Homo sapiens: one gene and its partners. The protein of the gene in region 1 interacts with the protein of each later gene in a biochemical or structural test. Each region holds a gene or a part of one and is shown in the gene's direction. Other genes may lie near its edges.

The links.
Region 2: the proteins of SNTG2 (region 1) and JUP interact in a test that uses a peptide from one of them, tested with the Homo sapiens proteins (one large-scale study listed by IntAct).
Region 3: the proteins of SNTG2 (region 1) and ATP2A2 interact in a test that uses a peptide from one of them, tested with the Homo sapiens proteins (one large-scale study listed by IntAct).
Region 4: the proteins of SNTG2 (region 1) and SMCHD1 interact in a test that uses a peptide from one of them, tested with the Homo sapiens proteins (one large-scale study listed by IntAct).
Region 5: the proteins of SNTG2 (region 1) and KCNV1 interact in a test that uses a peptide from one of them, tested with the Homo sapiens proteins (one large-scale study listed by IntAct).
Region 6: the proteins of SNTG2 (region 1) and PLEKHA1 interact in a test that uses a peptide from one of them, tested with the Homo sapiens proteins (one large-scale study listed by IntAct).
Region 7: the proteins of SNTG2 (region 1) and KCNJ18 interact in a test that uses a peptide from one of them, tested with the Homo sapiens proteins (one large-scale study listed by IntAct).

What each region holds. Positions count from the first base shown.
Region 1 is NC_000002.12:1,261,849-1,265,348, forward strand, and holds part of SNTG2 (gamma-2-syntrophin), read left to right. Parts: intron 1-46; exon of another isoform or gene 47-173; intron 174-487; exon of another isoform or gene 488-570; intron 571-3,500. UniProt on the Homo sapiens protein: Adapter protein that binds to and probably organizes the subcellular localization of a variety of proteins. May link various receptors to the actin cytoskeleton and the dystrophin glycoprotein complex.
Region 2 is NC_000017.11:41,766,212-41,769,711, reverse strand, and holds part of JUP (junction plakoglobin), read left to right. Parts: intron 1-34; coding exon 35-294; intron 295-504; coding exon 505-743; intron 744-2,131; coding exon 2,132-2,333; intron 2,334-3,500. UniProt on the Homo sapiens protein: Common junctional plaque protein. The membrane-associated plaques are architectural elements in an important strategic position to influence the arrangement and function of both the cytoskeleton and the cells within the tissue.
Region 3 is NC_000012.12:110,349,420-110,351,593, forward strand, and holds the end of ATP2A2 (sarcoplasmic/endoplasmic reticulum calcium ATPase 2), read left to right. Parts: 3' UTR 1-872; coding exon of another isoform or gene 873-886; 3' UTR 887-1,674; downstream 1,675-2,174.
Region 4 is NC_000018.10:2,697,226-2,700,725, forward strand, and holds part of SMCHD1 (structural maintenance of chromosomes flexible hinge domain-containing protein 1), read left to right. Parts: intron 1-605; coding exon 606-816; intron 817-3,313; coding exon 3,314-3,434; intron 3,435-3,500. UniProt on the Homo sapiens protein: Non-canonical member of the structural maintenance of chromosomes (SMC) protein family that plays a key role in epigenetic silencing by regulating chromatin architecture.
Region 5 is NC_000008.11:109,965,772-109,969,271, reverse strand, and holds part of KCNV1 (potassium voltage-gated channel subfamily V member 1), read left to right. Parts: intron 1-672; coding exon 673-1,184; 3' UTR 1,185-3,500. UniProt on the Homo sapiens protein: Potassium channel subunit that does not form functional channels by itself. Modulates KCNB1 and KCNB2 channel activity by shifting the threshold for inactivation to more negative values and by slowing the rate of inactivation.
Region 6 is NC_000010.11:122,381,208-122,384,707, forward strand, and holds part of PLEKHA1 (pleckstrin homology domain-containing family A member 1), read left to right. Parts: intron 1-3,500. UniProt on the Homo sapiens protein: Binds specifically to phosphatidylinositol 3,4-diphosphate (PtdIns3,4P2), but not to other phosphoinositides. May recruit other proteins to the plasma membrane.
Region 7 is NC_000017.11:21,695,523-21,699,022, forward strand, and holds part of KCNJ18 (inward rectifier potassium channel 18), read left to right. Parts: intron 1-460; 5' UTR 461-582; intron 583-3,500. UniProt on the Homo sapiens protein: Inward rectifier potassium channels are characterized by a greater tendency to allow potassium to flow into the cell rather than out of it.

The sequences.
Region 1 (3,500 bases):
GACTTTCCAGAAGCCAAGCAGAGACAGGGATGGGGCCCAGACTCACGTGGCTGCAAAGCTCATCCCGAATCCCGCTCTATTCCACGTGCTAGAAGCAGTGGTGTTCCGGGAGCCTGTCGCGAGTGGCCGTTAAGAGTTCTAGAACGTGTTCTCCACGGATCTTCGGGGTAGTCCTGTTTGGATAATATCAACACTGAGAGGAAGAATTCCTAAATGATTTTCCTAAAGCCATGTCAGGACAAAACTGCACCAGAGTTAAAGGCGAAGAAGGCAAGAAGACCTTATTCAAGTCTATTATGATAGGAGAGAGAGAGAGATTCAGAGATTCAACTCCACTGAAACAAAGGATGAGAGGGTTTCTACAAGTTGGGATGGGAAGGAGATTAGGGCCATCATTGTCTGTTAATTGGCCTCCTGCAAAGAAACAGAGAGCTTCCCCCATCTTCATGACAGGAGGTGGTTGCACAGCTTAGAGCCAAGCACCCACCAAGGCTGGGCTCCATCCTTCCACAGGGACAGGAGATGACGCCATCTTGCCAGTGATCACATTTTGAAGGGACAGCTCCCAGCTCCTTGAGAAAGACAGTCCTGGGTTGTACAGCCAGCAAGAGACTTCTAGAAAGATTCAGGTATCAAATGGCAGAGAAAGAACATACAATAATACATTTTCTAAAGCAAATGCTCTAAAGATAGGGAGTTCCAGGTCCCAGAGGTGGGAAGAAGCCGGGTCAAGTCTCAGTCCAGACGAGGAAACCCAAAGGCTCAGTCCAGACGAGGAAACCCAAAGGCTCAGTCCAGACGTAGTAACCGGAAGGCTCAGTCCAGACGAGGCAACCGGAAGGCTCCGTCCAGACGAGGCAACCGGAAGGCTCCGTCCAGACGAGGCAACCGGAAGGCTCCGTGCAGACGAGGCAACCCGAAGGCTCCGTGCAGACGAGGTAACCGGAAGGCTCGGTCCAGACGACGAAACCCGAAGGCTCGGTCCAGACGAGGAAACCCGATGGCCTAGCCAGCCGCTGACTGACTGTTGACGGCAAGCCGCTGACCTTGAACTTCAGTGCTCAGGGTTTCCAGTCGTATCAACACACTGCGATCCACAAGGTCTGAGTGATTGTTTTTAAAGGAGCTACAGGAACTATCTGGGGAAATGAGCTATATATGAATAATTAATTTTCCTTTTGTAGAACTTACAACACATTCTTTGTGAGGCTAAACAGTGGAAAAACAATCCCTTGCTTGATCAAGCAGTCTCACTCCTCAGAATTGAATCTAAAGAAGAGTCCATTACAACACTGAGTTCAGAGGAATCAAAGAGCTATATGTATGAGAATGTTTAAGGATATTCCTTAAATTAATGATATTTGAAGAATAATCAAAAGACCATTGAGAAATATTTTAAAATCTTACAACATATTTTAAGTAATTCTACTATAAATTTATACAGTTATATGTACAAATTCACATTGCATGAAAGAGAATATTAATTATTGTCCTATTATTAAGGTTATATTAATAATTATTGACATATTTTTAAAAATCAGATGACAAAACATAGTAATAAGTTTATCTTTTAAATTCCCTTTATTGTTGCTATAATTGTTTCATAATAAATATAAATAGAAAAAATATGTAATTTTAGAATACAACCCTTTTTGTTTTTTTCAGGAAAGGGAACATAATAAGATGATGTCTTGCAGTCCTAGGTGGGGGGTGGGCTTTCTTCAGTCGTGGGGGTGGCTGGAAATGCTGTTCTGGATATTGCCAGAGCTGACCCTGCCAGGAAGCCAGGTAGCTGCAAAGCAGACATCAAATCGACATGTACGGCCTGGCTCAGCATTGCCTTAGGACGTGTGTCTTTATGAAAGCACGTAGTGAACTCATGTGAATCCGGGATGTGAGCCCTGCATGCTGGCCACTCTGTCATGTGAAGTTATGACAACATTTTTATCACGATTCCATTTCACAGCTCAAAAGTGGAGGCTCTGAGAGAGTGAATTGCTCAAGATCAAACAGCTAATACTGGGCAAAGAAAGGCCTCAAATTTTATCTGACTCCAAAACCTGGTGTTCTTCTATTATAATACACAGCTGCCCAAATATAGCAAGTGATAGGAAAGAAACACAATTGACCTTTGAACAATATGGGCTTGAACTGCGTGGGCTCATTTGTATGCCAATTGTTTTCTATAAGTATGTTGGAAAATTTTTTGAAAACAATTTAACAATTGTAAAAACCTCTTAAGACAAACTGTGTAGCTTAAAAATATCAAAACATTAAGAAAAAGTTAGAGATGTCGTGAATTCATACAATATATGTAGATACTAGTCTATTTCATCATTTACTCCTGTAAAATATAAATCAATCAATTTGGCACCATCTGCAGTGGAGAGGAATATAGACAAAGGTAAAGATGCAGCGTTCAATCATTCCTGCCCATGGTTAACTGGAGCACATAGTGTGACATGGGTTTCTGAGTAAAATGTCTTAATCATCCCTGTGGAAGCAATTTCTCTCTCCAGTAAATTGCAGAGCATGGTAACGAGTGATCTCTCAGAGTTCTTGTGTACCTTCCCTCCTTCGTGTTGAGTCCAGTAACGTAAACCTTGAATAACACCCCGGGACCCACACGAAGTGCCACAAGGGATGTTGCAAGTGCCCCAAGAAGCGGGAATATCACAGCATTGCCAAAAAGCTGAATTGTTTGCTGTGCACCACAGATTGAGGTCTGCAGCGTGGTTGCCACCATTTCAGACCATTCATCTCATAAACAGATGATGTAAACTTATGGTGTCAATAAATACAGTGCAGTGCTCTAAGTATATCTTCTCTTCCCTGTGATTTTCTCAATAACATTCTCTATTCTCTAGCTTACTTTCTTAATTCATTTATTTATTTAGAGATAGGATCTTGCTGTGTCATCCAGGCTGGTCTTAAATTCCTGGGCTCCAGTGATGCCCCTGCCTCAGCCTCCCAATTAGTTGTGATTACAGGTGTAAGCCACTGTGCCTGAATTCACTTATTCTATTCTAAGAATGTAGTATATTATACGTATAACATACAGAATATGTGTTAATTGACTGTTCATGTTATTAGTAAAGCTTCTGATCAACAATAGACTACTAGTAGTTAAGTTTTAGGGGAGTCAAAAGTTATGCATGAATCTTCAACTGCGTGAGAGTTGGCGCCCCTAACCCCTGGGTTGTTCAAGGCCCAACTATAATGAGCCATTCAATGGGGGATGTGCGTTCCCACATAAATATCTTCCAAAAGTTTTTCTTTATCAGTTTTGACATTTAAGTTCAGTGGATAAAGAGATACTTTCTGCACCATAAGGTCAATGATGAACATGTTGTTCTTGGTTTGTGACGTGTAACCCTATAGGTTCCAGGTATCCCAGCTGAAGGAGACGATCCAGAGGGCCCCAGAATTAAAGTGCAGTTTCTGTACTCAAGGCTCATTTAGGGTTAGCAACGTATGCACACTACACACATTCACGTACA
Region 2 (3,500 bases), on another chromosome or scaffold:
GCCTGCACTCAGTCCCTGTCCCCATGGCCCCCAGGTGATCTGGAGTACCAGATGTCCACAACAGCCAGGGCCAAACGGGTGCGGGAGGCCATGTGCCCTGGTGTGTCAGGCGAGGACAGCTCGCTTCTGCTGGCCACCCAGGTGGAGGGGCAGGCCACCAACCTGCAGCGACTGGCCGAGCCGTCCCAGCTGCTCAAGTCGGCCATTGTGCATCTCATCAACTACCAGGACGATGCCGAGCTGGCCACTCGCGCCCTGCCCGAGCTCACCAAACTGCTCAACGACGAGGACCCGGTCTGTGAGGGTCCCTGCTAGGGTGGGGGCTGGGCAGGGAGGGGAGAGAGCAGATGTCCTCAGGGGAGGGACATTGTAGGGGTGGAGGGAGGTTATGACCCAGACTCTCCCGTGTGTGATGAGTCTGACTGGGGCCCTCCTCAGCTCTGTGGAAGGGTATCCCGGCCTCTCCTTAGTGCTCACGTCCCCGCCCCTGCCTTTGCCCTCCAGGTGGTGGTGACCAAGGCGGCCATGATTGTGAACCAGCTGTCGAAGAAGGAGGCGTCGCGGCGGGCCCTGATGGGCTCGCCCCAGCTGGTGGCCGCTGTCGTGCGTACCATGCAGAATACCAGCGACCTGGACACAGCCCGCTGCACCACCAGCATCCTGCACAACCTCTCCCACCACCGGGAGGGGCTGCTCGCCATCTTCAAGTCGGGTGGCATCCCTGCTCTGGTCCGCATGCTCAGGTACCCAACCCTGCTCACTGCATGAGCCCAGGACCCCCTCTCACTTGGGCCTCTCCCCTCCCTTCCCTGAGCTTCCATAAATATCCAGTGAGCACCTACTATGTGCCAGGCAGAAGCACACCCCATCCGGGTGCTCGGTGGCTCACAGCCCAGCAGGGAACACAGGCATGTAAACAGCAGGTTAATGATCAGGATACGACACAGGCTATGGCAGAAGAGCATTGAGATTGCTCAAAGGTGGAATCGCTTAATGGCAGGGGATTGACAGATGAGTGGAGTTTGGCTAGTGCAGAGGAAGGGAAGAGTGTCCCAGGCAGAGGGAACAGCAAATGCAAAGTCCCTTGCAAACTTTCTGTTTCCTGGCCCCCTACAAAATGTGGATTGGCCTCATTTCTTTTTTTTTTTTTGAGATGAGGCCTTGCTCTGTCACCCAAGCTGGAGTGCAGTGGCGTGATCTCAGCTCACTGCAGCCTCCACCTCCTGGGTTCGAATGATTCTCCTGCCTCAGTCTCCTGAGTAGCTGGGATTACAAGCATCTGCCACCATACCTAGCTATTTTTTTTTGTTTTGAGATGGAGTTTTCCTCCTGTTGCCCAGGCTGGAGTGCAATGGCACAGTCTCGGCTTACTGCAACCTCTGCCTCCCGGGTTCAAGAGATTCTCCTGCCTCAGCCTCCCAAGTAGCAGGGATTACAGGCACCCACGACCATGCCTGGCTAATTTTTGTATTTTTAGTAAAAATGGGGTTTCACCATGTTGGCCAGGCTAGTCTTGAACTCCTGACCTCAGGTGATCTGCCCCCCTTGGCCTCCCAAAGTGCTGGGATTATAGGCGTCTGCCACCATGCCCAGCTCAATTTTGTATTTTTAGTAGAGACGGGGTTTCACCACGTTGGCCAGGCTGGTTTCGAACTCCTAACCTCAGGGTGATCCACCTGCCTCAGCCTCCCCAAGCGCTGAGTTTACAGACGTGAGCCACTGCTCCTGGCCTTATTTCTCATTCCCATACCAGGCTGGAAGCTCCCTGAAGGGGAGACACTGATTTCACTCCCCTCTGAACGCCTTGCAAGGCCTCTCTAATATGTGGCCTTCCACATGGTGGTTACTTAGTAGGGATCAGTGTCTAGGGGACCTACTGTGCGCTCAGCACAGGGCTGGGGACTCAGAAGCAGGAGGAGTCATTGTCCCAGTTGGGAGAAGAGAGGTGCTGTTTGCTTCATGCTTAAGAGCAGGGCAGGCTCAAGGAGTGATGAGATTTTAGCAAAGGGATATTTCCAGAGGGGCGTCAGTAGCGGGGAGGCTTCCTGGGGGAGGTGGGAACCCATGCCAGGCTCACATGTATGCCAGGCCTCTGGGACCTCAGCGTACTAACCCCTGCCCACCCCCCCAGCTCCCCTGTGGAGTCGGTCCTGTTCTATGCCATCACCACGCTGCACAACCTGCTCCTGTACCAGGAGGGCGCCAAGATGGCCGTGCGCCTGGCCGACGGGCTGCAAAAGATGGTGCCCCTGCTCAACAAGAACAACCCCAAGTTCCTGGCCATCACCACCGACTGCCTGCAGCTCCTGGCCTACGGCAACCAGGAGAGCAAGGTGGGCCCTCCCCAACTCTCCCGAGGCCTGAAGCCCACCCTTGCGCCATCTTCTATCCTGCACAGCCTTGGGCCGCTGCCCCCTTACTCCTTTTAGATGAGATATAGGTGCAGATATACATGCTTCATCATGCGACTGAATTGCCCAGAATTATTATTTTGAGGATAAGGGAAAAAAAAAATCACTCATCCTCATATAGCCACTATTGTCATTTCGATGTGCTTCCTTAAGAGCTGTTCTGTGGGCAGATTACAGATGTGTACACATCCTTGTCATCATAACAATCTGCAATATTGCATCTGTTTTCTGCCTGATTTTTTTTTTTTTTTTTTGAGACAGGGTCTCACTCTGTCACACAGGCTAGAGTGCAGTGGTGTAATCAGGGCTCACTGCAGCCTTGACTTCCTGGGCTCAGATGATCCTCCTACCTCAGCCTCCAGAGTAGCTGGGACTTCAGGCGTGTGCTACCACGCCCGACTAATTTTTTTTTTCCTTTTCTTTTCTTTCTTTTTTTTTTTTTGTTTGAGATGGAGTCTCACTTTGTCGCCCAGGCAGGAGTGCAATGGCACGATCTCGGCTCACTGCAACCTTCGCCTCCCGGGTTCAAGCGATTCTCCTGCTTCAGCCTCCCAAGTAGCTAGGATTACAGGTGCCCGCCACCACACCCAGCTAATTTTTGTATTTTTAGTAGAGACAAGGTTTCACCACATTGGCCAGGCTGGTCTCGAACTCTTGACCTTAGGTTGTCCATCTGCCTCGGCCTCATAAAATGCTGGGATTACAGGCATGAGACACCGTGCCCCACCCCCAACTAATTTTTTATAGAGATGGGATTTCTCCATGTTGCCCAGGCTGGTCTCAAACTCCTGGGCTCAAGTGATCTGCCTGCCTTGGCCTCCCAAAGTATCAGGATTACAGGTGTGAGCCACTGTGCCTGGCCTGTATGATGTTTAAAAAAAATTTTTTTTTGCTATATTGTCCTCAAAACCACCCTCTAATAATGACAGATTGCCTTTCCTTTCCCCTTTCCCCCTCCCCTTTCCTTTTTCCTTTTCCTTTTCCTTTTCCTTTCCCTCTCTTCCTCTCTTTCTTCCTTCCTTCCCATTCTTTCCTTTTCTTTCTTTTTTGAGACAGGGTCTCACTGTGTTACCCAGGCTAGAGTGCAGT
Region 3 (2,174 bases), on another chromosome or scaffold:
TTGGCCTCTCTGAGCTTTGCCCAGAAGACCAACAATCATACATACCCTAACTGGGACACCACTCTGCAGAATGCAGATGATCCATTCTGGAGGAAGCTGTCCCTTGAGCTCAGTGAGCTCCCAGGCAAGCAGGGCATCTGGCCGACTTCCCTCACAACAGCTGCTCCCACATCCCCTCGGACTGGAGCTTCAGCCCTGACTGAGGTGGGCAGACCTAAGACCTGAGACCACAAGATTAGCTCAGTGTCTACCAAGCATCTAGCCACTGTCCAGGGCCAGAGCATACCACGTCTGCAGTGCCTGTGAGCAGAGCCAGCAGTTGCCCTGTGACTGTAACCACCAAATTGTCCAAACACCCGCTGCAGTTAGCAAGAAGGGTAGGCTTCACCCTCCTTTACTGAGGAGAATGATGCGGAGGAGTTTCCTCTCCAGGGCTAGGCAAGGCAGGCGAGCAGCCAGAAGCCGGGTGCCCACAGGGCAGGGACAGGAAGGCTGTGCTGCTACTGGCTGCTCACTTCTCCATCAACCTCACCCTCTGCACCACTAACCAAGACCTTGTCCTCTTGCCTGTCTCGCTGCTTTCACAGCTGCAACGATTGTGTCTGCCTCATGGGGTTTTCCTCCAGAGCCTTTATTCTGTAGCCAGACGACACGAGGAGTCTGTGTCACTGAGCCAGTGCTTCTAGATGCTACCCTGTGTGGGCGGCACCTCAGGGACAGTAAATCAGAAATGCTGGTCTTGAAACCTTGAAAAGATCAAGCTGAATGTTCCTTTTCATCTGTCGCTGTTGATCTTCATCTATTTAAATAGGTATTCTAACGTTTCCTCTCTGTATTTCATGAAGCTGATTTCCTCTCTCTTTCCTTTTCAGCAATACTGGAGTAACCGCTTCCTAAACCATTTTGCAGAAATGTAAGGGTGTTCGGTTGCGTGCATGTGCGTTTTTAGCAACACATCTACCAACCCTGTGCATGACTGATGTTGGGGAAAAAGAAAAGTAAAAAACTTCCCAACTCACTTTGTGTTATGTGGAGGAAATGTGTATTACCAATGGGGTTGTTAGCTTTTAAATCAAAATACTGATTACAGATGTACAATTTAGCTTAATCAGAAAGCCTCTCCAGAGAAGTTTGGTTTCTTTGCTGCAAGAGGAATGAGGCTCTGTAACCTTATCTAAGAACTTGGAAGCCGTCAGCCAAGTCGCCACATTTCTCTGCAAAATGTCATAGCTTATATAAATGTACAGTATTCAATTGTAATGCATGCCTTCGGTTGTAAGTAGCCAGATCCCTCTCCAGTGACATTGGAACATGCTACTTTTTAATTGGCCCTGTACAGTTTGCTTATTTATAAATTCATTAAAAACACTACAGGTGTTGAATGGTTAAAATGTAGGCCTCCAGTTCATTTTCAGTTATTTTCTGAGTGTGCAGACAGCTATTTCGCACTGTATTAAATGTAACTTATTTAATGAAATCAGAAGCAGTAGACAGATGTTGGTGCAATACAAATATTGTGATGCATTTATCTTAATAAAATGCTAAATGTCAATTTATCACTGCGCATGTTTGACTTTAGACTGTAAATAGAGATCAGTTTGTTTCTTTCTGTGCTGGTAACAATGAGCGTCGCACAGACATGGTTTCAGGTAAATAAATCTATTCTATGATAAATTCTCAGTGTGGTGGTGACTGTTCTGTGGGAGGGGGACTGATGGGCACCAAGGGCCTCCACTCCGCACCCGGGCCTGCCCCTCTACAGGGAAGCAGGGGAGGCTCAGTCTGGGCAGGGTGGCCATGTGACTAGAGGGGACAGGAACCTCTTGGACTCGACTTCACAGTAGACAGGCTGACTGGCAGCAGGTCCGCCCATGTGAAGCCCACCCTGGCTCCCTACCCTTTAAGGATGGGGGAAGCTGAGTGTGTGTTACCAGTGGGGTCTTAAACACACAAGGCCTCACTCGTCAGTGTGGTGAAGAAAGCCAAGACTCCGCGCTCTCCATTGTTAGCAGCCTGGAAAGATCTGGAGACTAGCAATGGAGAGATGTTTCTTAGGCTGTTCAGATCCAAAACTTCCACATTCCCCGTTGTTGATAGGTATGGGATGGAGAGGTGAACAGAACTGAAGCAGCTGTTGGAATTCATTTGCTGGTTACTTTAGTGCTTATTTGGCA
Region 4 (3,500 bases), on another chromosome or scaffold:
CTCTCCTTGTTTTTTACCAAACTACTTTCATTGTTTGATATCCAACTAAAGAGATTATTCCTAGATGTATTTTTCTCAAACCTTTATTTACTGTAGGCTTGGTTTATCTTTTTTTGTCTCTCTTCTGTGGAGCTATGCATTGTTACTGAACATCAATCATCTCTTGAAGCATGGAGGAAAAGGGAGATAATGTAGCTTTCCTTTTGTTTGTAGAAGTTATATCGTGGTGACAAGGTTTAGCAGCACAGAGCATTTGAGTATTGGATTCTCAATCCTCTAACCCACACGTTAGAATTTCACATACGATGTTGTCCCACTTCCTACCTCTAGCAAGAAACCTCGAATTAAATGTACTCATGACTTTTCTGTCCTTCAGCTCTGATTTGCTGTTTCTTTGCTTACTTTATATTTTTTAGTAGTATGTTCCTTATTGAGATGCTACTTAAAGCTGTTTAACTCATATGTAAATATATGTATTTCATTAAGCCAGATTGTTACTTGTACAAATAAACATAATTTTTACTTATTCTGTTGTTGAATCATAGCTGAGAACAAAAGTAAAGTTACCATAGAATTTAATTATTTTTGTTTCCTTTTTATTTTAGATTTCTATGTTTGAAAAAGGGAAGGTACCTAAGATTGTCAACCTAAGGGAAATACAAGACGACATGCAGACGTTGTATGTAAACACAGCAGCTGATAGTTTTGAATTCAAAGCTCATGTTGAAGGAGATGGTGTAGTGGAAGGGATTATCCGTTATCATCCATTCTTATATGATAGAGAAACTTACCCTGATGATCCATGCTTTCCATCAAGTATGTTAATCTGTTATCTTAGTTATAAAATATGAAGTTGTAATTTAGGACAGTGATTTGTTTTTCTAAATGATTATCGGTTGGGTTATTCAGGTTAGATAAATATTAAATTTTTTCTTATGCAAGTCTTAGATTGTTAGGTATTTGTAATTTTTGTAATTCCTGATTTTTGTGTACATTCATTTCTAGATGAATAAATCTTTAATGAACTCTTCTTTTAGTTCTGTTACGAAACCAAACTTTTAGATATGTATGCGTATTAATCCTTTATATGTTCCCTTGTCTTCTCTTTATCCTTGTTGCAGTTTTACACTTTATGCAGTCATATTTACTAACTTTTTCTTTATGCTTTCTGATTTTGTCTTACTGTAGAAAGGCTTTTTACATCTCAAAATTATATAAATCTGTAGCTTTTTTGTTTTTGTTGTCATTTTATGGTCAATGCATCTGTGTTTTTCTTTTTTGTATGTAGAGCAAGGTGGGGTTTTATTTATTTATTTAAATTTTTGAGTGATGGGGTCTTGCCGTGTTGCCCAGGCTGGTCTTAAGATCCTGGCCTGAAACAATCCTCCTGCCTTGGCCTCCCAAAGTACTAGGATTACAGGTGTGAGCCACCACACCTGGCCCCCACCTTTTTTTCCCCCCCCAGTAGAGAGATAGGGATTTAACAATTATTTTCTATGTGGTATTCATATTCAGTTTCTTAGCACCAGTTATTGAATGTTATAATTTACCCAAGAGTTAGAACTTGTATAATACAAAGTTCCCATAAGTACATAGGTCTAGATTCTTTACTATAAAGTACTATTTTATTTTTTTTTAATATGAGTAATGATACTGTCTTGTAGCTTTATCTTGTAATTTGGTATCTTTGGGAAAAAACATTTTCACTATTGTTCCTTTTTGAGAATACTTTTGCTCTTCTAGATAATTTTGGAATCAGCTTTGTACATTCACTTGAAGTAATTCTAGTGAGATTATTGGGATTGCATTGAATTTATAGGTTAACAATATTAAACTTTTTCATTCAGAATACTTCCTTAGTACATTCTTGGTTTTCTAGGGCCTGCAACCAGAGATCCTGATTCGAATCCCATCTTTGCCACTTTCTGTTGGACAAACTACTCCCTGCCTTAGTTTCCTTACCTGGGAAATGGGTAGTTCACACCTCATAGGGGTGTTGTGAAGATCAAATTTAAAAACTGGGGCAACTTCTCAGAATAGTGCTCAACACTATTTATTAAGTGCTCCTGCCCAGTACATATTGTTACTCAGTGGCTCCACTGGCCTTTTTGGTTTTGTTTTTTATTTTTTGGAGACAAAAGTCTTGCGTTGCCACACACGCTGGAGTGCAGTGACACAATGTAGGCTCACTGCAGTCTCTGCCTCCCAGGTTCAAGCAATTCTCATGGATCAGCCTCCTGAGTAACTGGGACTACAGGTGCCCACCACCATGCCAGGCTAATTTTTTGTATTTTATTAGAGACAAGGTTTTGTCATGTTGCCAAGGGTAGTCTCAAACTTCTGAGCTCAGGTAATCCTCCCACCTCAGCTTCCCAAAGTGCTAGGATTACAGGCGTAAGCCCCTGTGCCTGGCCATCTCTGACCTCTTAAATTTGCTGTTTCCAATTTTTGTGTGCTAATAGACAAAAAGATATAATTTTTTTCAAATGCTGCCTTAAAAAGAAGAGCAAGTAAGTTGAGTGATCAATCAGAGGGATTCTCCTCTAAGAGCAAAGTGATTTTGTTTGATTGAAAGCAGCTTTTATATAAGGGACTTCTTGTGAGGGCTTTTAGGGAGAAGGTTTTGTTTTAGGTGGGTAAACTAATTCCAGGGTAGCTGAGGTGTTAATATGTCAGGATCACATTGTTTAATCCTAATTTATCTGGATACACGAGAGTGTGTTGCTAATAAACATAAGATTATAGACAATTGTGCAAATTAATGCTCTTGATGCATAGTAACATGTCTTACAGTTCTGTGTACATTTTTCATGCTTACTTGAATCTGAAAATAATTTCTAAAAAGTAAACTTAATTTTAGCATCATTCACTAATTTGTTCAAACTAGGTAAACTCGCTGCTATTAGATGTCATAGATTTCTCAGATGACTTTCATGTGAACATACTAGTTCTGATAAAATTGTGAAACTGTTTTAGATACGGGATTTAAGCTCCTATATTTGTAGGAAGGAGGGATTTTGTTATAGGGGATAATCTTTTTGGATGTAAGACTCTTTTAGCCTCATGAATAGGTTTTAAAGATGACAGGCCCAGCAGCTAGTACATTGGTTCATATATAAGTAATTATTGACTTCTAAATGACAGACAGCATTCGTAATGTGGAACCACTTTGTAAACCTACCTTTTTGTGGGCAAACAGTATAAAACTACCTTTAGGTTTTATAGAATGCAATTTGAAACATTTATGTGTTTGTTTCATTATTTCTCACATTTTAGCAATAAACATTTTGTTCCATTTGCCCTTTTGATCTAGAATTAAAAGATGAAGATGATGAAGATGATTGTTTCATACTTGAGAAAGCAGCTAGAGGGAAAAGGCCTATTTTTGAATGTTTTTGGAATGGACGATTAATACCATATACATCAGTTGAAGAGTAAGTTTGATTTTTGCTGAAATTATGTTTTTACAACTTAATTCTTTTACTAACTAACATTTTGTT
Region 5 (3,500 bases), on another chromosome or scaffold:
GAGTTCAGACCTCCTCCTGACATACTGCTGAGAATGTCCCCTGAATATACATGTGATGTTCTCATGTCAATTTTATCACCAATGCCTAACTTGCTTCTGCTGCTTCACTTTGTTGCTATGGTGCCCATTGTTTACTTTTTCTGGCTTTCCTGTAATCAGGTTCCTGATTGTCTTAAACTTTACAAGGAAGGTGAGAAAAACAGACACATAAAATACAAGACAACATAAAACTGGCATTTGAAACAAGTGCTAAAATGATGCATTGAAATGCAGGTGTGACCAAATATGCCCTCCACATGCAACACCGCAAAGGCCTCTTATTGTACAGACTAAAGTACAAAACTCCTATCATACCACCCCTGCCTGCCTTCAGTCTTACCTCTCGCCTTCTTTTTAATAGTAGAAGTTCAATAATTCTATAGGTGAATTAATGAATCTAATTATATTTCTCTCTAGCCTTCTCAACCTGGCCCCATCAACTAGACTGTGAACTTCCTGGCACAAGGATTATGATTTAATCAACTTTGTATCCCCAGAACATTGCCCAGTGCTGGGGACATTTAAGTGTGCAGTGCAGTTTGTGGGTGGCAGAGCAAGGAGGGAGAGGGGAGGGGAGGGAAGGAAGAGAGAGAAGAGGGATGCCAATGACTGACAGCATTTGTTCTGTTGCAGGATTACGCTCCCTTGGGATGACAATCACCCAGTGTTACGAAGAAGTCGGCCTACTGCTCCTATTTCTATCCGTGGGAATCTCTATATTTTCAACTGTAGAATACTTTGCTGAGCAAAGCATTCCTGACACAACCTTCACAAGTGTCCCTTGTGCATGGTGGTGGGCCACCACCTCTATGACTACTGTGGGATATGGGGACATTAGACCAGACACCACCACAGGCAAAATCGTGGCCTTCATGTGTATATTATCGGGAATTCTTGTCTTGGCCTTGCCTATTGCTATTATTAACGATCGCTTCTCTGCTTGCTACTTCACCTTGAAACTCAAGGAAGCAGCTGTTAGACAGCGTGAAGCCCTAAAGAAGCTTACCAAGAATATAGCCACTGACTCATATATCAGTGTTAACTTGAGAGATGTCTATGCCCGGAGTATCATGGAGATGCTGCGACTGAAAGGCAGAGAAAGAGCAAGTACTAGGAGCAGCGGGGGAGATGATTTCTGGTTTTGAATTAATTTTCAATTTATTTACAAAAGCTATGTACAATTAACTAAAATGATAAAGCAGTGATGTGGATTTCTGTATTCTGATGATGAGTCTCTTCAGAGTACTGCTCATCTTAATTAATTTTTGCTGATATATTGCTTCATCTACTAGAATATTTCACATCACCTATAACAACTGCACAGTGTTCTGACACATTTGAGTGTCCAAAATAGCCAATTAACACAACCAAATACAACTGGGCCAATATAAACATGTTTGAATTGTCAAATATAAAATAATGTTATTGCAATACATACAAAAAAGTTAAAGATTTTATGTATCACTAACATTAGAAGTTTTTTGCACCACTAATTTTTTAAAAATGGAAGGTAAACTGCATAGCCCAGAGAAAGATAAGTAAATATTTAAGAACATATTGAACAACTTTGCTATTTAAAGATATTATCCAAGTACATAAATTACTCCGTTCTCTATCAGTTAAAGCTATTGAATATAATACTTAGCTTTACAAGAGAAAACCCATATTTGATGGGCAGAGATTATATCCCTATCTTCTTTTTCATGTAAACCACTGGTCACAAATGAACTGATCTCTGTATCCCATTATTACTATAAGAGGTGGGAATCCCAAAACTGCTTAGATTGCAGTACATGAGTCTACACAAAGACTTCAACAATTGCACATCTTCATTCTCCCAACTGAGTGTAGTATGTGGAGCATAAAACAGCATATTTCTTAGTATTTCATGAATATCAGATGGTCTTTAAATGTCTCTTTATGGATGTATTGTTCACATTATGGCTTTAAAATAATGAATATGTAAAAGTGAGGTAGTGAACATCCTAAATTTCTACACTGGAATTACTAAATAATCTTATTTCATAAAATGGGAAATATATGTTAAATGACATCACTGGATGAACTTGAAGATCTTTTACTTGTTAACAAAAAAATACTATGGACAGCTTTCTGATTGTTGGGGTAAATAGCAAATGTTCAAACTTTGCAGGCATTTTGACATTCATCATAACAACACAATTCCTAGACATTGTATTATATAATTAAAGCCAAAACCTCTAAAGCTAAGAACTAGCTCATGATTCCCATTATTTTAGTAAATGAGATTCTACAACCTAAGAATAACAAGGAATGCATCACTTTAATACCTACATTTCCAATATAATAGAGCCCCCAAGGGGAAGAAAATTGGTTCTTGAGGAAAAAAAAATCTTATCACTTCATTTACAAAACACAGATAAGCATATTGAGTATATCTGTGGTATTAACATTTCATGGGGGTGAGATGTTAGGGAAAAAAGCCTAGAAGGCTCTTTGCCAGGGGTGAATGGTGATAAGAAATAAACATTGAGGACTGCTTTAATATATAGCTATAAGGTATTTCATAAACTCTATTTAAGACATCATATTATGCTATGCACTACCAAGAAAGAAAGATGCCAGTCAATTGTAAGATGCCATTAACTGTAAAATGCATCCGGATTTCAGATATGTAAAAATTTAAAATAAGCACCTTAAAATCAATGAAATATCGCATGTACTACCTCCTGTTTTCTGGTATGCATGGTTAAGCTCTGAAAACATTTTCACTGATGGCATGAGTTTTAGATTGTGTGCTAAAGTACTTTAATTCATTTAACTTGTTTCCACTTCTCCTAAATATTATAAAAGGTTCAGGAGATATGAATATTAGTAAGATAAATATTTTACTTCTTACACACATACATGGGTGCTAGATTGTGGCACAGGGCCACTAGTCATAGTATAAATCCCTTCCACAATCTGAAGGGAAAGTAGAAGTTAGACACAGAAGGTAAACTTACTCCAGCTTTTCTAGAACTTTCCCTAATAAGAATAGTTACTCTGATCCAGGACTATGCTCTGTATTCATCATGTATTATGCCATTTTATCCTCAAAATATCCCTATTATATAATTACTATTCTTATACTCTTCAAAATACATATTTTATATATTTATTAACTCAACAAATATTTATTAAGGATCTTTGGTGTTCTGGGGACTAGGGAGTCTTTCTTAAACAAGACTAGGTCCTGTTTTCTTGTAGTTAATATTCTGTTCAAAGGTGTGTGAGGAAAAGACAGCGAAACTGAAACATTAAAAGGTATAAACTTGCCTAAATTCACACAGGCTATAGATGGCAGAGCCAGCGCTGAATACCAATCTGCCTGACCCGGAAAACGACACTCCTAAAAGTCAAATTGCAGATTTCATTCTTCCTACACAAGCTCTGCATAGAAATTTATTTTTTAGGCAGGCAAGCCAACTTCTTGTGCATGG
Region 6 (3,500 bases), on another chromosome or scaffold:
CCAGGTGGGAGGTCATGGTCACTTGGACCAGAGAGGTAGCAAGTGGTGAGAAGTAGGATTCTGGTTATAATTTGAAGATGGAGATAACAGGATTTGCTGATGGATTGGACATGGGGTAGGATATGGTTTGGATTTGTGTCCCCACCCAAATCTCATGTCGAATTGTAATCCCCAGTGTTGGAGGAGGCGCCTGTTGGGAGGCGGTTGGTTCATGGGACAGACATCCCTACTTTCTGTTCTCATGATAGTGAGTGAGTTCTCCTGAGATCTGGTTGTTTAAAAGTGTGTACCTCTCTCTTCTCTCTTTCTTCCTCCTGCTCCTGCGATGTAAGAGGTAACTCCTCCCTCTTTGCCTTCCACCATGATTGTAAGTTTCTTGAGGCGTCCCCAGTCATGCCTCCTGTACAGACTGTGGAACTGTGAGCTAATTAAACCTCTTTTCTTTGTAAATTACCCAGCCTCAGGTAGTTCTTTATAGCAATGCAAGAACGGACTACCACAGGGTGAGAAAAACTTAAGTATGACTTCAAGATACTTTTCCTGAACAACTGGAAGAAGGGAGTGGCCCTTTACTGAGCTAGGGAAGGCTGGATCAGGATTCTGAGGGGAATATCTGGAGCTCAGTTTGTTAAGTTTGAGATAGCTTGTTAGATAAGTGGAACCGTAGAATAGGCAGTTGTATACATGGGTCTGGAGGTCAACAGTGTTCAAGGCTGGAGATAACAGTCTGGAAGTCATCAATATTTAGGCCTGTGAGAATGAGTAACCTCACCAAGACACTGAGTATATATAGGAAAGAGATCCACAGACCACCCTCTGGGATACTCCAACAATAGAGGTCTGGGAGATGAAATATTCCTTAGGGTTTCTTATGTACTCTAGAATGAAAGACAATTGTAATCGTTTCTTTTTTTAGAAAAAGCTTTATTGAGATAATTCACACTATATAAATCACTTATTTAAAATGTATGATTTAGTGCATTCACAGTTACGTGGACAACACCACAATCAATTTTAGAATATTAGTATCATCCCCAAAGAAACCCTGTACCCTCCTATCCTTAGACAACAACTCATTTCCCCTGTACCTAGGCAACTAGTAATCTACCTTCTAGCTTTATAGATTTGCCCATTCTGCATATTTCATGTCAGTGGAATCATACTATACTTGGTTTGTTTAGAGAGAAGTGGTATCCATTAGTACCTAGCTTCTAGATTCAATAGATACCAAGTTACTTGGTAAAGGTGGGGGCTATAAGATCTCTCCAATGTAAAGATACATTTCCTGTTTGCAATTAGTAACAAAACTGTGGGGTGATATTTTGAGACTATGAATATTCTGTTTCCTAACAGCATTTCATCTAGTGGTTTTAGTGTTCATTGAAGATGCTTGTGTAAATCAGTGAGACATTGGGATTACAAAGTGGTGATTTTCTATTACTGTCATATCTTCAGAAATGATGTAGTTCATATTATTTCTAATTCAGATGTATTGTACACAGTTTGTTCTTTTGTTTTTTGTTTGTACCTCTTTTCTCTCACTGTGAAAGTCTTGGTTCCTAATAACAAATAAATGTTTTCTTTTATTTTAAATATAATCATATCAACATATTTACATTATCCAATAATGTACATTATAATGGTCTGGAAGTCTTGTTATACCTAAAATGTTTCACATTACAGTACCAAGTAGGAATGCTGGATCATAGGATAAAAGCATATATGATTTTGTTAAATAGTACCAGATTCACCCAGTAGGGTTTTACCATTTTGCCTTCTTGCCAGCAATGTAAGAGTTTCTGTTTTCTTACAGCCTCATCAGTATAGTGTGTTGTCAAACTTTTGAATTTTTGCCAGTCTAATAGATGAGAAATGGTATATCTGTATAGTATAGATTTAAAAAACTTTTCTATTATGGAGATTTGTGAACATCCACAAAAATAGAATAGTGTAACCAATCCCATGAACACCATCATTTAGCCCCAGCAACTACCAACCCTGCCACCAGTGCCTCCGTTTATTCCCTTCTCTAAAAATTATTTTGAAACAAATCCCAGATAACATTTTTTTCTTTTCTTTCTTGCTTTTTTCTTTTCTTTCTTTCTGTTTTTTTTTTTTCTTTTTTTTTTTTAGAATGGGTCTTGCTCTATTGCCCAGGCTGGAGTACAGTGGCACAATCATAGCTTACTGCAGACTCAATCTCCTGGGCTGAAGCGATTATCCCACCTCAGCTTCCCAAGTAGCTGGGACTACAGGCACACACCACCATGCCTGGCTAATTTTTTTTTTTTTTTTTGGCAGAGATAATGTCTTGTCATTTTGTAGGCTTGAATTGCTGAGCTCACACAATCCTCCTGCCTCAGCCTCCCAAAGTGCTGGGATTACAATTGTGAGCCATCATGCCTGGCCCCAGATAAATAACATTTATTTTATATCAGTAAATATCTCTAAATGAAAAGGACTCCTCCTTTTTTTGGTAACAATCACAATGCCGTTATCACACCAAAAATAATGTGTCTGTTTTCTTAATATCATCAGACAATATTCAAATTTCCGATTTTAAGTATGTCAGTGTTTTTTTGTTTGTTTTTGTTTTTATTTTTAAAGAAACAGGATTTAAATAAAATCCACATGTCGTGATTGGTCCAGATATCTAAAGTCTTTTTTAATTCATAGGTTTCTCCTCTAGTTCCTTTTCTTCTCCTGCTTTTGAATTTAATTTTAAAGAAACCAGTTATCTTTCCTGAGCCATTTCTTACTGTATAGATTTTGATATTTGAATCCCTGTGGTAGTCTCTCGTGTTGTTCTGTTCTTGGGATGTCATTGGCAATGGCTACATCTCGGTATGGTTTTTTTGTATTTGTCCTGTTATGAGTGATACTGAATATCTCATCATATATTTAAAGGCCATTTTTATATCTCTCTTGGTACAATGTTCATGTCTTTTACTCATTTTTCTATTGAACGTTTGATATATTTCCCTTAACATTTTTTGCAAGCTCTTTAAATGCTAGGGAGATTAGCCCTTTGTTTATGATATAAGTTGCAAATATTTTCTACTGGCTTTGACTTTGCTTATCAGGTTTTTGCCATGGAAAGCTTTTAAAAAACTTTATTTGGCTGGGCGCGGTGGCTCACGCCTGTAATCCCAGCACTTTGGGAGGCCGAGATGGGCGGATCACGTGGTCAGGAGATTGAGACCATCCTGGCTAACACGGTGAAACCCCGTCTCTACTAAAAATACAAAAAATTAGCCGGGTGAGGTGGTGGGCGCCTGTAGTCCCAGCTGCTCGGGAGGCTGAGGCAGGAGAATGGTGTGAACCCCAGGGGGCAGAGCCTGCAGTGCGCCGAGATCGTGCCACTGCACTCCAGCCTGGGTGACAGAGCGAGACTCTGTCTCAAAAAAAAAAAAAAAAAAATGACTTGTAGTCATTTATAAATGAGTTTTTAAAATTGTTACTGCTCCAGGTGTGGTGGCTCACACCTGTAATCCCAGCAC
Region 7 (3,500 bases), on another chromosome or scaffold:
CTGGCTCCAAGGTTGGCGTTGGGAAGGCTCTGCAGGTGGTGGCTGGGAGTACAGGCTGAGGGCCTGAATTCCTTTGTGACAGTGGGAGAATTACCACATTAACTACTTCTCTGGAATAGTAACAACAATAGTTCCAACCTTGTGGAATTGTGAGGATTATGTGAGATGATGTATGTAAAATGCCTACTATAGTGTCTGGCATGCAATAGGCACTCAATAATTGTCAGCGGTCATTTTTCTCTGACACTCCATCTTGTTCTGCTCTTCTCTGGTTCTGGATGGTTGCTATGCTGTGAAGGTGTGGGGCATCAAAGGTGCAGGCCAGAGGCCCTTCCATCTCCTGTGGGGCCCTGGGGAAGTGAGCAGAAATGTGGGTTCATGTGGTTATGTCTTACTTCTGTGCCCCTCTGAGAAGAGCAGCACCGCCTGCAGTAACTTGGCTTTACTCTTTTAACTTTAGGATGTTCTAGTGACTGGATCCTTTCCAGCTGGTGCCTGGGAAATGGCAGCCACTACTAATTCAGCCTTGAAGACAGTACCGTGCCTACTCAGCACCATTACGTAGAAGACAGAACTCAAGAGGTAAGAGTGAAGTCATTGACATGCTCTTGTGCATCTAGGCATTCCTTCCACCAGACTCTCATCTGTACATCCTTCACCCCTCCACCCACCATGCCATCCTTTCATCACCCATTCCCCCACCCATTTATCTGCTCAGCCTTCCATCCACCCACCCATGCCTCCACCCCTCCATCCATCCCCTCGCCCATGCCATCCGTTCCTCACCCATTCCCCCACCCATTCATCTGCTCAACCATCCATCCACCCATCCTTCCACCCACCTAGCCAGTCCATCTATCTGCTCACCCCTATCATCCACCCACCCATCTGTCAACCCGATTTATCCACCCATCTGCCTGACCACCCACATGTTGATTCAATCACTCTTCCACCCATCTCCTCATCCATCCCATTCAGCTGCTTAGTCCTTCACCCTTCATCTGGCTGGGATGCATTTCCTGGGTGCCCCTCTTTGCTAGTACCTGCATCAGCCTCTCTAGACCTCTGAGCTTGGTCAGAGATGGGGCCTGGGCAAGATCAACTCTCACACAAGGTGGGAAGTAGCTTCTGGCCTGAATGGGAAAAGCCCAGTGCTAGAGGATCCTAAAGGGGGCCAGGGGAGGAGGAGGAGGTGGAGGAGGCGGAGGAGAAGGCAGCTCAGTATTGTGGGGCAGAAGGTGGAGGAGGAAGAGCAGGAGGAGACTTGGTGTACAGCATCCAGGAGGGGAGGCCAGGGTTCAAGAGCCTTTGCTGTGGAGAGGCTACTGGAGACCCTATGAGGAAGGCCCAGGAGACAAAGGTTCCAGCGCAAGTAGTTTCCTGGGAGGTGATCCCAGGAAATAAGGAAATGAGGTGAGAAAGAGAAGGAAGTGATAAAGGGCATGTCGTTGATACAGTTACTGCTGGGGCACTGGAGCTGACTCCCGCTGGGGAGGCCAGGGAAGCAGTGCCCCTCCCAGGGGCAGCTTGCTGGGGCCCAGCCACCTGCTCCCATCAGTCACTGACTGAAAGCTGTCCTGGCAGCATCAGCTCCTCAGCCTGCCCTCTGAATGGCAGAGCATGTCCACGGCTAGAGAGAGTTTTTGGGCAGAGAGACACTGGTTCGTGTAGGAATTGAGACAGGTGGGCCTGAGGTGGTAAGGGCCTAGGATATCAGTGGGGCACCCACCACCCCATGCCCTGCACACAGTGATGTGTTGCTGCTGCCTCTCTCCTCGGGCCTAGCCTGCATTTGGCATAGGAAGCCATCATGGCATTGGACCCAAATGTTTGAGGGCCATGGGTTAGCTTGGTGGACAGAGGCCAGGTGAGTCTCTGGTGGGGAAGTTTGGCCTGGAAAGGGGATTGGGCGTAAGAGGTCATCATCTTCTTCCCAGATTATGAGACATAGGAATGCCACCCACCACTCTCCCTCTCCCCTCCACACCAGCCTGGGTTCTCCCCCATCCAGCCAAGCTTCCTCACTGCCCCAGGGTGCCCAGCACGTCTTTGCCTCCCACTCCTGGCTCTGGCAGTGTCCCCCAGCAGTGCCCCTCCTGGCTGCCTGTGCCCAGCCTAGCCTTGATGTGGTCCTACACCCAGGGCAGGGCCTGGCATGAGGGAGAGCCCCTAACCCTGCAGCCAGCCCTGCCTCTCACACCCTATGTGATGGAGCAAGGGCACCACTGGCTCAGAGCCTCAGTCTCCCCATCTGCAAAGGAAGGGCTGGGCTTTCCAGGCCCCAGTGCTGCATCTGATGAATGGTGCCTGGATTAGGAAAGATTCTGAGCTGCTCTGGATGCAGTGGATGAAGCTCTGTGGCTGAGGAATGGTGCTTGCCTGGGCGAGGCTGGAGCAGGCACCTTGGGCGGGGAGGCGTGTGCCAGCCTTCCCTGCATTGAGTGATCTCCAAGGGGTCTTCCAATGGTAAGGCTTGATCATGAGGTAGAGTGCCCCATCTCCGAATGAGGGTGAGTGGCTGTGGGTTGGAGTGCTGGTGAGGGCCCTTGAACCTGTTCTTTTGAGTGCCGATTTGTGGCAGTCTACATCTCATCACCACCTGGGATTGCAGGGGCTTGGGACCAAAAGGATTGCAGTGCCACGCACACAGTCAGGCCTCAGGTCTTGGTGTTGTGGGGCACTGGTTTCACCCCTACAGCCCAGCCTGGAAGCTTCACTCCTGAAAGGCTGTGTAACCATCACAGTGACTCAATCTTCCTAGGCTTCCGTCTGCTCATCTGGAAAATGGGGATAATAATCACAGTGTGATGGAAGGGATTAAATGAATCAGTTTATTAAAGCTCTTAGAAGAGCACGTGGCAGGTAGTAAGCACTTGATAGATACTGAGTGCTGTGTTCGTGCCTCATGAGGCGCCCTAGCTAGCTGAACAGTCTCTGCATGAGGGATGGGGGCTGTTGGCGCCTCCCCCTCCGAGTCCCTATGTCTTACCCTGGGTGATGCAGGCGCCTGCACTCTCCCTTCCAGTCAGTGCTTTCTTGGTGTCTGGGAATGTGGGTCCAGGCCTTGCCCTGGGCTCCTCCCAGATGTCACCGAAACCTGAGAAGCCCAGGGCCTCAGGGCAGTGGGCATGGGGCATCCAGTTCCATCCGGAAGCACCTCCCGGTGACTCCTGGACCCCACCCTTAGGTCACGTGGCAGCTGCCGTCTGGCATCCTCTCTAAAAGCTCCCAGCCCAGGCCCTGGTCTGTTCTTCAAGTGGACTGGTCGCTGGGAGGCTGCGTCTGTAGGCACTGTGGCCAGCAGGAAAGCAGGGATCTCCGGGGGTCTGCCGGGCCCGCGCTCTCTCCCCACTGCCTGCTCTCTCCCTCCTGGGTTTGCTTCACTGCCCCTTGGTGTTGAAACCGCCTTGTCTAGCTCAGGTAGTGTACCCCAGCGCCCCTCTCCCATTCCCCTCCCGGCGACCCTGGGACCCTGGCAGGCCAACCCCGGTGTCTGTGGA